3 linked regions of the Homo sapiens genome follow. The protein of the gene in region 3 purifies or fractionates together with the protein of the main gene of each other region. This does not show direct contact. Each region holds a gene or a part of one and is shown on either strand. Other genes may lie near its edges.

Region 1 (4,413 bases), on a different chromosome or scaffold from region 3:
CCAAGGGGCTCACCCTTGAGTGGGACGGACAGCAAAACTGTGGTTCTTGGCCACAGTTAGGGAGACCAGACGGGAAGGAGAGAGTATGCACTGTGGAAGAGGTTCATCCTGTCTGAACAAGGGAGAAATCTAGGAAGACTTCCAGGAGGAGGTGACATTTAAGCCAGGCCTCAAAAGATCGGGGGAGCTTTGTAGCAACTGTTTAGTGGTGGGACTTGTATACTAGGCTTTGAGCAAGAGAACTTTTATTTCAGATAAAATCCTAGAAGGATTCCTCATATAACAGGGATCCCTGTAGCACCGTGAAGATTGAGGCAGGAAAGGGACTGGGAATGCTGCAAATGGAGACATACACCTCAGAGACTGAGTTGGCACAGAATCCATGGGACTTGATGATGAGGGAGAGGGAGGTGACAAGCCTGATGCCCAGCTTCCCCATGAAGGGGAGAAGTAGGGTGTGGACGTGCAAATGGAGTATTAGCTGCTGCTGCAGAGCTACTGGCCCTTCCAGGCCCAGCTTCATGTCTCCAGCACCAGCCCTTCATTAGTTCTCAAAAGGGCGTGAGTTGGCTGCAGGCTCTGCTGGGAGCAGGATGATCTAGGGTGGCCCCAGCTGTGCCAGCTTGTCTTTGCTCCATCAATCTCTCATCCTCCAGCAGGCTGGCCTGGGTGCGTCCTCATGGCAGCCCCAGGGCTTTGAGAGAGTGGAGGTCACAGGGCCACTCACAGCCTAGGTCCTGGACTTTACCACGTTCTGTTAGCCAAAGCAGGTCCCAAGTCCAGCACAGAGAAGTGCAGGCCACCTGGGGTGAGCTGCAGAGCCACACCACAAAGGACCTGGGTGCGGGGAGGGGACTGGGCTGCTCTGCCAGGCCATCTACACACACGGCAGTTCCCTTTGGCCACACGGCAGTAGAGGCAGCTGTGGACATACAAAGTGTAGATAGCTGGGCTCAGGATCGAGTCTCGCCCACCATCAGCAGGCGAGGGCTCATCAGAGCCCTGGAAGGGACAAAATAGCAGGGTTGTGTTCACCATGGAACAGCTGGCTGAGGAGGAGGGTGGACCCCTGGGAAACTGAGGAACAGCTGCCAGAGAAGGCGAGGGAGAACAAGTGAGCTCGAGAGTGAAGGCGGGGAGGACGGGCGCTTGGGGTGCAGGGAGGGCCCCCAGCGTGACTCTGCCAGCCAGGCGGTGGGGGGGGCGGGGGGGTGGGAGTGAGAGGGCACTGAGGGAGTGGGCTGGTCAGGCTGATCTGATGTCTGGCCAGGGAGGAGCCCCAGGCCTCTGTGTCAGGCACTGGGACTGCAGGGCACCAGGGCTGCCCACTGGCTGCCAGCCTCTGCCCTGCACTGCGCTGTCCTGGCCTACTCATCCTGCCCCCTTCCAATTCTTGTTAAGGAACCCACTTTGGAGACAAGCAGTGACTGAAGAGCAGGCAGAGGCTGCTACACCACAGTGTCCTGTCTCAACCTTTCCCCACTCAGGCCCTGGGGCCAACCTGTCAGTGAGTGCCCAGGTTCCCCAGGTGCAGGCACCAGGTCAGGAGCCAGATCACTGAGGACTGGCCTTGCCCAGTGACTCCCGCCCCGTGCCCCATGTGGGGTGGTGCTGGGGCAGTGCTGAGGGAGCCAGTTTGGAAGTGGCGACCTCCTACCCTCAACTTCCCTTGGTGGGAGTGCCCGCAGCTACCCAGGCGTGCCAGGGGCAGGCCTGGGATTTTAGCCTAGTGTCTTTGGAATATCTAGTTCAGCCCCAGAACCACATCTGGCTTGCCTGAGCCAAGGGAAGGGGAACAGCCGTGGCACATCTCTAGCTGCTGGCCCTGAATGGCAGTTTCCAGGTCCGTGGCACTCCAGCTTCTGGAGACAAGGGCAGATCGCCTCAGAGAGGCCTGCTACCACCCAGCCCTGCCCTCAGGGCTGCAGAGCTGTCCCTGCCCTGCCTTCTGGCCACCACCCTGTCATGATGCCATTGCACAGAGCCACCTCCAGTGTGAACAGGAAGATTGTGTTGGAGAGAGCACCAGCCTCCAGCTACTTTTGGGTCTGGGGTTTGTTCAGAACAGTGGCTGGTGAGGCTTTGGGGGAGGGGAGCCGAGAAGGGGACTAGAGACTGGGGGGTCCCTGGGGGAAAAGCCAGCTTCTCCCTAGGTGGCAGTAGGCAGGGGAGTGGAGACTCCCTGAGATAGCAACACCTCCTGGGCCTAGGTGGGCATAAGCACTGGCCATGCTTGGTTGTCCTCTCTGCCCCTGCCTCCTGCGCCCACTGCATGCCACACATGTGCAGGGTGGTTTATTTTTAAATTTTATTTTATTTTATATTTTATTTTATTATTTTATTTTATTTTATTTTATTTTATTATTTTATTTTATTTTATTTTATTTTATTTTATTTTATTTTATTTCATCTCAGACAGGGCCTGGCTGTGTTGCCCAGGCAGGGGTGCAGTGGTACAATCACAGCTCACTGCAACCTCCGCCTCCCAGGCTCAAGTGATCCTCCCGCCCCAGCCTCTCGAGTAGCTGGGACTACAGGCATGCGCCACCATGCTGGCTAATTTTTGTATTTTTGATAGAGATGAGGTTTTGCCATGTTGCCCAGGCTGGTCTTGAACTCCTGGGCTCAAGCGATTCATTCACCTCATCCTCCCAAAGTGCTGGGATTACAGACATGAGCCACTGCTGCTGCCAAGATGGTTTCTATACACTCCCATCCTCAATCTCCATGATAGGCATACAGTAGGTGGCATAATGCCCATTTTACAGATGTGGAGACTGAGGCTCAGAGAAGTAGCAGATGCTCAAATCCAGGCTTGCAACACCACTACCAGTCCGTCCACAGGGGTTCATGACATGCTCACTGGAAGTTAGTGAGCTCTTCCAGGGGCTGGGCATACATCCAGGGAAGAAGACAGAGCTGGTGCCCTCTGGGAGCTTGCCTGCCAGTGGGGAAGAAACAAGGAGCAAGACAAGATCACACAGGCCAGTCTCTTAGGAGGCAGTGACAAGTGTGGCTGGCAGAGTAAGGCGGGAGGGAGGGAGGGACTGAGGGACTGCCTCAAGTGAGGAGGGGCGGCACGTGGAACTCAGGGGGAAAAGCTCTCCGCGGAGGAGGTGAGGTGAGTCAAGACTGCCAGGCCAGGGGCCGCACCCGCGCCGTGGAGTGGAGTGGAGTGTGGAGGGTTTTGTGCAGAATCTGATTAACTCTTTGAAAAGAGCCCCTGCAGTCTGGAGCCTCGCGGGCAGTGCGGCTCCCCTCCTGGCTGCAGACAAAACCCCACAGCTGTGGGGCCCCCACCCTGTCCTAACCACCGAAACTTCTCTTTGGTCACAGGTTGCATATTCATCGAAGAGAACTTTTCTTTGAAATGTCCCAAACATAAGGTAGGGGACCACAGTGTTTTGTAGGGCGAGGGGTGTCAAGCGGGAGAGGAGCCCCACCTCGCACCTCCTTCACAGTCCCCTGGGCCCCCTTGGCTGCGCAGCCCCGCAGGGCCCAGCCCTAGGGGAGGGAGCTCTCCCCGCCCACCCCCAGGAGCCCCCGCCGCCGTCCAGCTCAGGTCCCTGTCCACTTGCGCGCCGCCGCCGCCGAAAACCCGCAGGCGTCGGGGCATGGGCAGCCAGGGGCTGGAGGGCGTCCCTGGGACGGCCTCCCTGCAGCTCCCCAAGATAGGTGACAGAGTGGGGCAGGCGGGGGCGCGGGACGGTGGCACGGAGCTGAAGGCGAAGGTGAAGGTGAAGCTGGACGGGGTGGGGCCAGAAGGGGTGGTGCCGACGGCCTCGGGCGGAGACCCCAGCCGCGCTCTGGGGTCGCCTGGGTCTGGGGCTTAGGCGGGGGGCCCACACTGGGGGCGGGGCCTATGGACTGTGAAGTCCGAGGTCGTCGGTAACTGGCGGGCGGGCGTCTTTTGCAGAGGCTGCCGTAGTAATCCACCCCAACGGCCGGAGGAGCCGCCGGAGCCCGCCTGCCCGCCCGCCGCCGAAGGAGAGGAGCCGCCTGCGCAGCCCCCGGGCCTTTGAGCTGCTCCCAGCGCTGGTCCAGAGCCGATCCTTGATCCGGGTCCCGGATCGTGGATCCGGCCGCCTAGGGCTCAGACTTGCGGCCCCGGGTTGGGAGGAAAACCCGTTCCGGAGCCGCCTGCTCCCGGAACCGGACGGCACAGGGCGTTCTTGCCCACCCCAGGGGCCAGGCTTGCGGAGGGGGAGCCCGCGGAGCGGCCAGACTCCCCGGGGCGCTCAGCCTCCGGCGAGGGTGGGAGACGGCTTTGTCCTGGGGACACTTTCCCTCTGGAATCTCAAGACGACGTGGCACACATTCCACGTGGGTGCTGCCGCCACCCCAGTCGGTCGTGGCGTGCAGCTGGGAGCCCTGGGCTTGGGGGTGGGGGTCGAAACAGTACTGGAAGAGGCG
Region 2 (4,413 bases), on a different chromosome or scaffold from region 3:
ATGTATACATATGTAACAAACCTGCATGTTGTGCACATGTACCCTAGAACTTACAGTATAAAAAAAGAAATGTTGCAAGACCACATATTTTTTTCATTTCTTTCTGGGACAGGATTAGAGGATCTGGAAGTCTCTGAAGCCCTTGGGGGATGGGGGTGGGAAAGTCAGGGGAGGGAGAGAGACAGTGCCAGGCTGGGGGTAGTAGAGCTTCGCGGTGGGGGACAGAGCCCAGGTCAGCCTGCCACCACCTTCAGATCCTGGCTTGCATTTACCGTCTGCGCAACTTTAGGCAAGTTATCAAACTTCTCTGTCCCTCAGTTTCCTCCCAAGGATAATAACAGTGCCTACCACATCAAGTGAATTAAAACACTAGAGCGTTGAGAACAGTGCCTGCACATGGGGGTGCTCTATTAATGTTAGCTGCTTGCCAAGCACTCTGTGTGACCTTTGGCAATTCATTGGCTTTCTGTCTTTAATTTCCACAAGATGGATACATTTAAAAATTAAAAAGCAACCCAAAAACTTAGCTAGGCATGGTGGCTCTTGCCTGTAGTTCCAGCTACACGGGCAGCTGAGTAGGAGGATCTCTTGGGCTCAAGAGTTCGAGGCTGCGGTGAGCTATGATCACGCCACTGCACTTCAGCCTGGGTGACACGGCAAGACCCTGCCAGGCAGTGTAGAAGAGGAAAACCTTCCTGAATTCAAAGTTAGGCCCCCCCTCCGCTGGCTCAGGTAGTTCAGACCATGAACAATCATTGATACCTTGTAGGCGAACTCCAGCTAGGCAGTCAGCTCCATGGGAAAGAAGACCTCTACTCCCAGCAGGGCCTGAGGTATAGTAGGAGCTCAATGAATTCTTGTTGAATGAATAAATCAATTTAGTACTGTGAGCTGGATGGAGATGCATGATAATAGATTTCCTCATCCAACATTCCCAAATATTTGGGGATTTTCTACTTGTTCTTTTATTAATGGTTTATAGCTGAATTCTGTTGTAGTCAAACAACATATTCTGCATAATATCATTGTATCTTAATATCTTAATATGTTTGTATCATTATATGTTCCATGTGTCCCTGGAGCATAGCTGCCTTCTGCAGTTGCTGAGTACAGTTTATAGAAACTTGTGAATTAGGTTAAGTTTGTTAATTATGTCATTCACATCTTCAACCCCAGGATTTTTCTGTGTCTTCTATCCGTTACTGACAGAGGTGTGTAAAAATCTCCCACTCTGATTATGAATTTGTCTATTTTTTCCTTTTAGTTCTATCAATATTTCTTTTATATATATTGAAGCTATGCACGTACGTTTAGAAGAGTTACATTATCCTGGTGGATTGACTTTCATTATCGTAAACTGTCCCTTTTTGTCTCTGGTAATGTTTCTTGTGTTAAGGTCAGCTTGATCGTACAAGTTTCCCTCTGGTTAATGTACGCATGGTATATCTGTTTCCATCCTTTTACATTAAGCCTCTGTGTCTCTTCTAAGAAATATAAAGCTGGATTGGGCTGGGCGTGGTGGCTCACACCTGTAATCCCAGCACTTTGGGAGGCTGAGGCGGATGGATCACTTGAGGTCAGGGGTTTGAGACCAGCCTGGCCAACATGGTGAAACCCCATCTCTACTCAAAATACAAAAATTGGCCAGGCGTGGTGGTACATGCCTGGAATCCCAGCTACTCGAGGGGCTAAGGCAGGAGAATCGCTTGAACCCAGGAGGCAGTGGTTGCAGTGAGCTGAGATCGCGCCACTGCACACTCCAGCCTGGGCAACAGAGCAAGACTCCATCTCAAAAAAAAAAAAGAAAAAGAAATGTAAAGCTGAATTGTTTTGTTATATTCGTTCTGATGATCTTTGTCTTTTAATTGGAGTATTTATTTTATCTAATGTAATTACTGATATATTGGAGTTTAAACCCACCATCTAATATTTTTTCTATTTGTAACAATTGTTTTATGTTACTTTTTATTTGTTTTATTGCTTCAATTTTGGATTAATCAAGTATTTTTTAATTCTACCATTTCTCCCCCAAACCCCCTTATTAACCTGTTAGTTGTACTTTTCTTTCAGTATATGGTTCTTACAATGATTCCTATAAAGATTACAACATGCATTTATTAGACTTGCTAAAGTCTAATAGACAATAGTACTTTTACCACTTCCCAGACAACACAAGAACCTCAAACCACTTGAGCTCCATTTAATGCCTTCCTGCCTTTCGTGCTGCGCTTGCCATGCATTTTTTTTTTTTTTTTTTTTTTTTTTTTTTTTTTGAGACAGACTCTCACTCTTTCGCCCAGGCTGGAGTGCAGTGGCGTGACCTCGGCTCACTGCAACCTCCACCTCCTGGGTTCACGCCATTCTCCTGCCTCAGCCTCCCGAGTAGCTGGGACTACAGGTGCCCGCCACCATGCCCGGCTAATTTTTTGTATTTTTAGTAGAGACGGGGTTTCACCGTGTTAGCCGGGATGGGCTTGATCTCCTGACCTTGTGATCCGCCCGCCTCAGCCTCCCAAAGTGCTGGGATTACAGGCGTGAGCCACTGCACCCAGCCAGTTGCCATGCATTTTAATCATACATGTATTTTAAACCCCACAGGACATTCTTCCTGTTTTACACACTCGATCTTCATTGAGATTTACCTACATCATTTCCTACTTCATACTCTTCATTCCTTCCTACGCCTCCTTACTGACATCTGGGATGATTTTTCCTTTTGCCTGAAGAATTCCCTGTAGTATTTCCGTCTTGTGGGTATTCTGGTGACAGACTCGCTCCTCTTTTGTTTATCTGGGATGTCCTTATTTTACCTTCGTTCTCTTCACTGGGCACAGATTCTAGGCAGACTTATTTTTTTCCGCCCTTTGAAAATGTTGCGCTGTTGAAGTCTTGTCTCCTTATTTGTGTTGAGGGGACCAGCTGTTAGTCTTTCTGCTGCTCTTTCTAAGGTAACTCAGCTCCTCTACCCTGTGTTTAAGATTTTTCTTTCTATCTTGTCTTCTCTGCAGTTGGATTTCGATGTGCCCAGATGTGGTTTTCCTTGTAAACTATACTGTGTGGGCTTGATGTCTTTTGTCATTCTGGAAAATTCTAGGCCATTATTTCTTCCATTATTTCCTCTGCACATCCTTTCTCTCCTCTTCTTTGGGATTCCATTTATGGGAATGTCAGACCTTCCTATGCCCTGGCTTCTAGAGTGCAGCTCTTCAGGAATGCATCTGAGAGCCTGGAGCTGTTTAACAGGTCCCTTTGTCCTTGGCAGGTTCTGAACTCCCGGTCTCCCCAGTCCCTGGAGGCTGCCTGCAGCTTTGCTTAGCTTCTCAGCCTGTTGATCACTGCCGTGGAATTGGCGAGTATCTTCCGGGGGAAAGCAGAGACAAAAGTGAGCCTCACCTCAATGCCCTTCCCATCTCTCTGGATTCTTGGTTCCTTCAGTCCTTGGTGCCTCGGTAGCTTTCTCGTGTCTTCGAACATATGTTTTTAATATTTTACCTTCCTTTTCTAGTTGTTCTTGGCAGGTAGCTTTATCTACTGCAAGGTAGCCTGATACATCCAGAGGCAGATGTGTTGCTGAGCAGAAATGACAAAGAGGTGGTTTCTGTCCCTTGGGCCTGAGGGTCCGGTGGCAGAGCCAGACATGACAACAATGTAAAGCACCAGCAAAATGTGATGTCAAAGGGAAGCAGAAATACATTCAATCTGATAGGAGGACCTAGGAAGGTCTCTGTGAAGAACAGGAAGGATTGCACCAGGTGCCATTTGGAGGGGAGGGGAGGGGATGGAGGCGCGTTGTTCTAGGTGTCAAAAGCTGAAGCTGGTATAGGCTGATATGATGGGATGTGTGCCATGGGCAGGGCTGGGGTGAGAGAAGGGAGACACCGTCGTGGGAACCGAAGCAGGGAAGGTAGGCACGTGCCACACATAAAGGCTTTTGTATCCAAGCTGAACCAGGACTTTTTATATGGGATGGCACATTGGGAGTGACCCATTCTGGCTTTGCTTGCAGTAACTGTGCAACTCTGGCAAAATCTCTAACCCTCTCTGGTTCTTGATTTTGTTGTAAAATAAGAATCCTAATAATACCTGCCTCTTCTACTCCCCAAGGTTCTTGTGAGGCATAGGTAAGCTTGAGGATGCAGATGTGCTTTGATGGGAATGATGAGTGGCCAGGACCCTGATTCCCTTCAGAGCCACACTACTAGGGGGTCAGGCTGTGCGTTGGTCCGTTGGTCAGGAGCTATCACAGGAACCCTCCATCACTTTCTGGCCTTGTTTGTTAGTCACAGGATGAGCATGGCTGGCTCTCCGGTGACATCAGAAAGCTTTCCAAAATCCTCAGTTCTGACTGTCCCCCAGGCTCTAACATCTCCACCCCAGCATCCTCTTCGGGGCACTGAGCACTGCTGGTCACCC
Region 3 (5,137 bases):
CTTTTTTTCTTTTTCTTTTTTTTGAGACATATTCTCTCACTCTGTCACCTGGGCTGGAGTGCAGTGGCGTGATCATGGCTCACTGCAGCCACAACTTCCTGGGCTCAGGTGATTCTCTTGTCTCAGCCTCCTGAGTAGTTGGGACTACAGGCGTGCACCACCACACCCAGCTTTTTTTTTTTTTTTTGTAGCGATGGGCTTTTGCCATGTTGCCCAGGCTGGCCTTGAACTCCTGGCCTCAGGCAATCTTCTTGCATCAGCCTCCCAAAGTGCTGGGATTACAGGTGTGTCCTGCTGTGCCTGGCTCAGTCTTTATGCCTTTGCACACACTTCCCCTGCCCAACTCCCTCTTTATTGTCTGATTACTTCCTCGTCTTCCTTTAGGAGCCAGCTCAGGTATGACCTGAGAATTAGGTTTCAGAATCACCCTTTACCCTTCAGTGTTGATTTACTGCTCCAGCTTTCTGTTCACATAATACTATGTGCTTTACTCTTACTCTCACACTGTTTTGTAGTCCTGTCTTCACTAGTCTTTTCCATTAAAGACTGAGTTTCATGAAGGCAGAAACTGTCTCCCTCTCTGTATCCCTAGTTCAGTATGCCCAATAAATGTTTGATGAATGAGGCCAGGCACGGTGGCCCACGCCTGTAATCCCAGCACTTTGGGGGGCAGAGGTGGGCAGATCACAAGGTCAGGAGATCAAGACCATCCTGGTTAACATGGTGAAATCCTGTCTCTACTAAAAATGCAAAAAATTAGCCAGGTGTGGTGGCATGCGCCTGTAGTCCCATCTACTCGGGAGGCTGAGGCAGGAGAATCGCTTGAACTTGGGAGGCGGAGGTTGCAGTGAGCCGAGATTGCGCCACTGCACCCCAGCCTGGGCGAGAGAGCGAGATTGTCTCAAAAAAAAAAAAAAAAAAAAAGTTTGATGAATGGATGAAAGCTGGTATCAGAAGCTATTTCTTAACTTTGGGAAATCTTTAAGTCTAGTCGAAATAGTTCAGATATCATCTAGGAGTTCTTATGTTCTGATTTCAGTGCTCTTGAGACAAAAACTTGGAGTTTACACAGGTCACGAGCCAGCTGCACCAAGAAAACTCAGTACGGGCGTACTCTGCTTTTGTTTCTTTAAATTGTATTGGTCTGTTTGGTTAGCTGTGCTAAAAATAGCATCTCTTAGTGATATTTCAATTTGAAAATTATCTAAGAACAAAGCTGTTTTTACTGCACTCTGCCTGGCAGCAGAGGGTTTGGGAGACCCTGGTCTTCCTTCCCCTGGACGCTGAAGAGGAGGAGGTAGTGCCAGATCAGGAGTCCCCTCAGAGGTGTCTCATAGCACATTCTTGGATCATTCACTGGAATCAGGTAGAGGGAGTATGTGTGGCCGACTGGGATGTGTGACTCTCAAAAGCACCTGGAGATTGAGGCAGGCACGTTCCTGCAACATATGTAAGGAAAGATGGCTGAGTAGCCAGTTACAGCAACAGCCTGCTTCTCCTGGGGGGATGAGGTGGGAGCAGTGAGTTGTCCTCAAGTGAGGATATCCTTAGATGAGGCTTAAATCAACTGATGTGCTTAACTGAATTCCTACAGTGTCCCACACAGATTGTACTAGAGCACATATTTGGGTTCCTATTGTTATTTTTACCTGTGATAATAAAGTTTCTGACTGTAAAACAGAACCTGCAGATATCTTTTTAACAGAGATGTTAGTATATTCCATTTTTCATCTTGAGCCACTCACTTTCAGTCTTAACTGCTTATTCTTGGTATCCAACAGCCAATGGAACCCTGGCATTTTGCCCTATAAACACAGGAGTACCATCTGTGGTGAAAGAGAGTAACTATAGGCTATATAATACATGGAGAAACAATTCATGGTTTGTTTGCTTTGCCATTCTGCTTCCTAGTGCTTTTTTAGGAATGTATTGTGAAAGTGAGAATAGGCTGTATAGCCAGAGATTTGTATTCATGGCACAAAGCAGAAAGCTGCTACCATCTTGGTGGTAGGGCAGCATGCTCTCTGGTATTAGCAAGGGACAGGGAAAACCAAGACAAGAAAGCCAGCATCCCCTTTGAAATGCTCATTTAAGTCAAGCTCCAGATTATACTTAAAGAAAAGTCATGGCCAGACGTGGTGGGTCGTGCCTGTAATCCCAGCACTTCAGGAGGCCAAGGCAGGTGGATTGCTTGAGGCCAGGAGTTTGAGACCAGCCTGGCCAGCATGGCAAAACCCCGTCTCTACTAAAAATATAAAAATTAGCAAGGCATGGTGGCACATGCCTGTAATCCCAGCTACTCGGGAGGCTGAGGCACAAGAATCACTTGAACTTGGGAGGCAGAAGTTGCAGTGAGCAACCTCTGCCTCTGCACTCCAGCCTGGGTGACAGAGCGAGACTGTCTCAAAAAAAATAAATAAATAAAGAGGAGGAGTCATAACATCCATTAGTTTCAAGGTCCTGGGCTGTGCCAGGGAGATACATGATAGCTACTGGATATTTATTTTTTGAGATGGAGTCTCAGTGTTACACAGGCTGGAGTGCAGTGGCGTGATCTCGGCTCACTGCAACCTCTGCTTCCTGGGTTCAAGCGATTCTCCTGCCTGAGCCTCTGGAGTAGCTGGTGCTACAAGCATGTACCACCACGCCCAGCTAATTTTTTTTTTTGAGACAGAGTCTTGCTGTTGTCTGCCCGGGCTGGAGTGTGATGGCATGATATCGACTCGCTGCAACCTCCACCTCCCAGGTTCCAGCAATTCTCCTGCCTCAGCCTCCCGAGTAGCCACCACACCCGGCTAATTTTTTTGTATTTTTAGCAGAGACAGGGTTTCACTGTATTAGCCAGGATGGTCTCGATCTCCTGACCTCGTGTTCCGCCCGCCTTGGCCTCCCAGAGTGCTGGGATTACAGGTGTGAGCCACCGCACCCGGCCAATTTTTGGGTTTTTAATAGAGACGGGGTTTCACCATGTTGGCCAGGCTGGTCTCGAACTCCTGACCTCAGGTGATCCACCCACCTCAGCCTCCCAAAGTGCTGGGATTACAGGCGTGAGCCACTGTGCCCGGCCTTTTTTTTTTTTTTTTTTTTTTAAGACAGAGTCTTCCTCTGTCAACCAGGCTGGAGTGCCAGCGGCATGATCTCAGCTCACTGTAACCTCTGCCTCCTGGATTCCAGCGGTTCTCCTGCCTCGGCTTCCTGAGTACAGGCGCGCACCACCATGCCCAGCTAATTTTTATATTTTTAATAGAGATGGGGCTTCACCATGTTGGCCAGGCTGGTGTCAAACTCCCAGCCTCAGGTGATACGCCCACCTCAGCCTCCCAAAGTGCTGGGATTACAGGCATGAGCCACCATGCCTGGCCAGCTATTTAGATATTTTATCAGTTATTCATCAGTCCCACTGTATATTAAATGGCAAGAGAGAATCCCACCAATTCTAGTCTTCTAGTCCTTTTATGTTGTTCCCAAACCAGTCCTGCGTCAAATATGTGTGGAAAATGGCTGAGAATGGACAGGATAGCTAAGCAACTCGCTGTGCATTACACAGAGATACCAAATCCTACTGGACAGAAGAAATAATATAAGGACATCCTCAGATGAGGCTTAAATCAGCCAATGTGCTTAATTGAACTCCCACAATCTACTTGGCACTAGAGGGAGGACAGATTCAAAATAAGTAGACATAGTCTTTGCACATAGGGAATACACAGCTTAACGTGGGAAGCAGTAAATACACAGACTTATAAAAGAAGAAAAACTCGACAAGGTAGTAAGTGCCACATTGAGTGGTTAAGGTCATTCAAAGTAAGGCCTTGATGTGGCATGCCAGGAAATAATAGGTGTAACACTGGGATCAGCTTTTGAACCAGGACTTCAGCATGACAGCCGAGCAAAGAAGCAAATCAAAGGACAGTGTACCTGTGTTCTGGGGCAAGGCATATTGGCTAGTTATATCTTTTTCAGCCACCACTATACTCACAGTTGGTAAGCATTTAATCAGCAATAGTTTCAGTCATAAAGGACAGCAAGATAAATGTGTGGCATAAATTTAATTCAGAATCTGGGCCAAAGCCTGATACCAAACCTTTAAAGCAAAGTGTCATCTGGAGCTGAAGGAAAGGCTGCCTGAGCAAGAGGCAGAATAAAGGCTAGAAGACTAGGAAGACTTGGGAAAGGTTTAAATTTCATGAGGTGTTAGTAGTATGACCAAAAGTCACTACTACAAATTGCCAAGGTTGGTGAGAGCTGTTCTTAGCTGGGTAGGTCGCTCAGGGGTCCTCAGGAGTCTGTCCACCTGGGTGGGTTGAGGCAGGAAGAGTAGGGAGGAAGGCTAGCGGGTGGCTTGACTGAAGTTGAACCCTAAGGTTGAGCTAGCCCTTCTTCCTGGTGTGTGAACCCTCTAGGTCAGGGGTAGGGCTCATCTGGGGAACCTACTGAGAGTGCCACGCCTGGCTCATTAGTGGCTGTCTGGGGAGGCCTTTTGAAGATGAAACACTTCATAAGCACTCATTGTTTCTGTTTTTTCGGACAAACTAGTACTTTGGTCTTCAGGGACTGTTGATCTGGCTCAGTTGCACTAGTCTGGAATTTGCTGCAAACTGAGAAGGGTGGTGGGGGAAATGTCAGAAGTTTTTGTAAAAACAACCAAACTCCCACCAAACCCCCATGCGTTAGCTTGTAAATAGGATTCCTCCCCGTCCACCTTTCACATTCTTGGGTTTGGGCGCACTTTGTCTTGACCTGTCCCTTTGGCTGCTGAGTTTGGGGTGTGTGTGTGTCTCTGGTTCCCAGACTCTAGAGAATGCCAGCAGCTGGCATATGGTGATTGCTGAATAAGCTGCCCGCTGACACATGCCTCCTGCAGGCACAGAGAACTGGTTTGTATGGGTGATTCTGAATCCTCATTTTATTATTGTTTCAAAGATGCATTTCTGTGGCTATCCTGTGCCATAGAGAAGAGAGGGAAGAAGAAAGGGAATGAATGAATGAATCTGATTCTGTCTGTTGGGGCAATGGCTGGGGTGAGCAGATAGACATTTTATACCTTCATAATGATTCTTTTGGTCCTGTTCATCCTTTCAGCAGGTATTTGTTGTTGTTATTACTATTATTATTATTATTTTGAGATGGATTCTCG

The links.
Region 1: the proteins of ARF3 (region 3) and RAI1 purify together in Homo sapiens (affinity purification with mass spectrometry; one large-scale study listed by BioGRID and IntAct). This does not show direct contact.
Region 2: the proteins of ARF3 (region 3) and LOXL2 purify together in Homo sapiens (co-immunoprecipitation; one study listed by IntAct). This does not show direct contact.

The regions. Positions count from the first base shown.
Region 1 is NC_000017.11:17,806,054-17,810,466, forward strand, and holds part of RAI1 (retinoic acid-induced protein 1), read left to right. Parts: intron 1-3,336; coding exon 3,337-3,386; intron 3,387-3,916; coding exon 3,917-3,928; 3' UTR 3,929-4,413. UniProt on the Homo sapiens protein: Transcriptional regulator of the circadian clock components: CLOCK, BMAL1, BMAL2, PER1/3, CRY1/2, NR1D1/2 and RORA/C. Positively regulates the transcriptional activity of CLOCK a core component of the circadian clock.
Region 2 is NC_000008.11:23,369,612-23,374,024, reverse strand, and holds part of LOXL2 (lysyl oxidase homolog 2 precursor), read left to right. Parts: intron 1-4,413. UniProt on the Homo sapiens protein: Mediates the post-translational oxidative deamination of lysine residues on target proteins leading to the formation of deaminated lysine (allysine).
Region 3 is NC_000012.12:48,943,093-48,948,229, reverse strand, and holds part of ARF3 (ADP-ribosylation factor 3), read left to right. Parts: intron 1-5,137.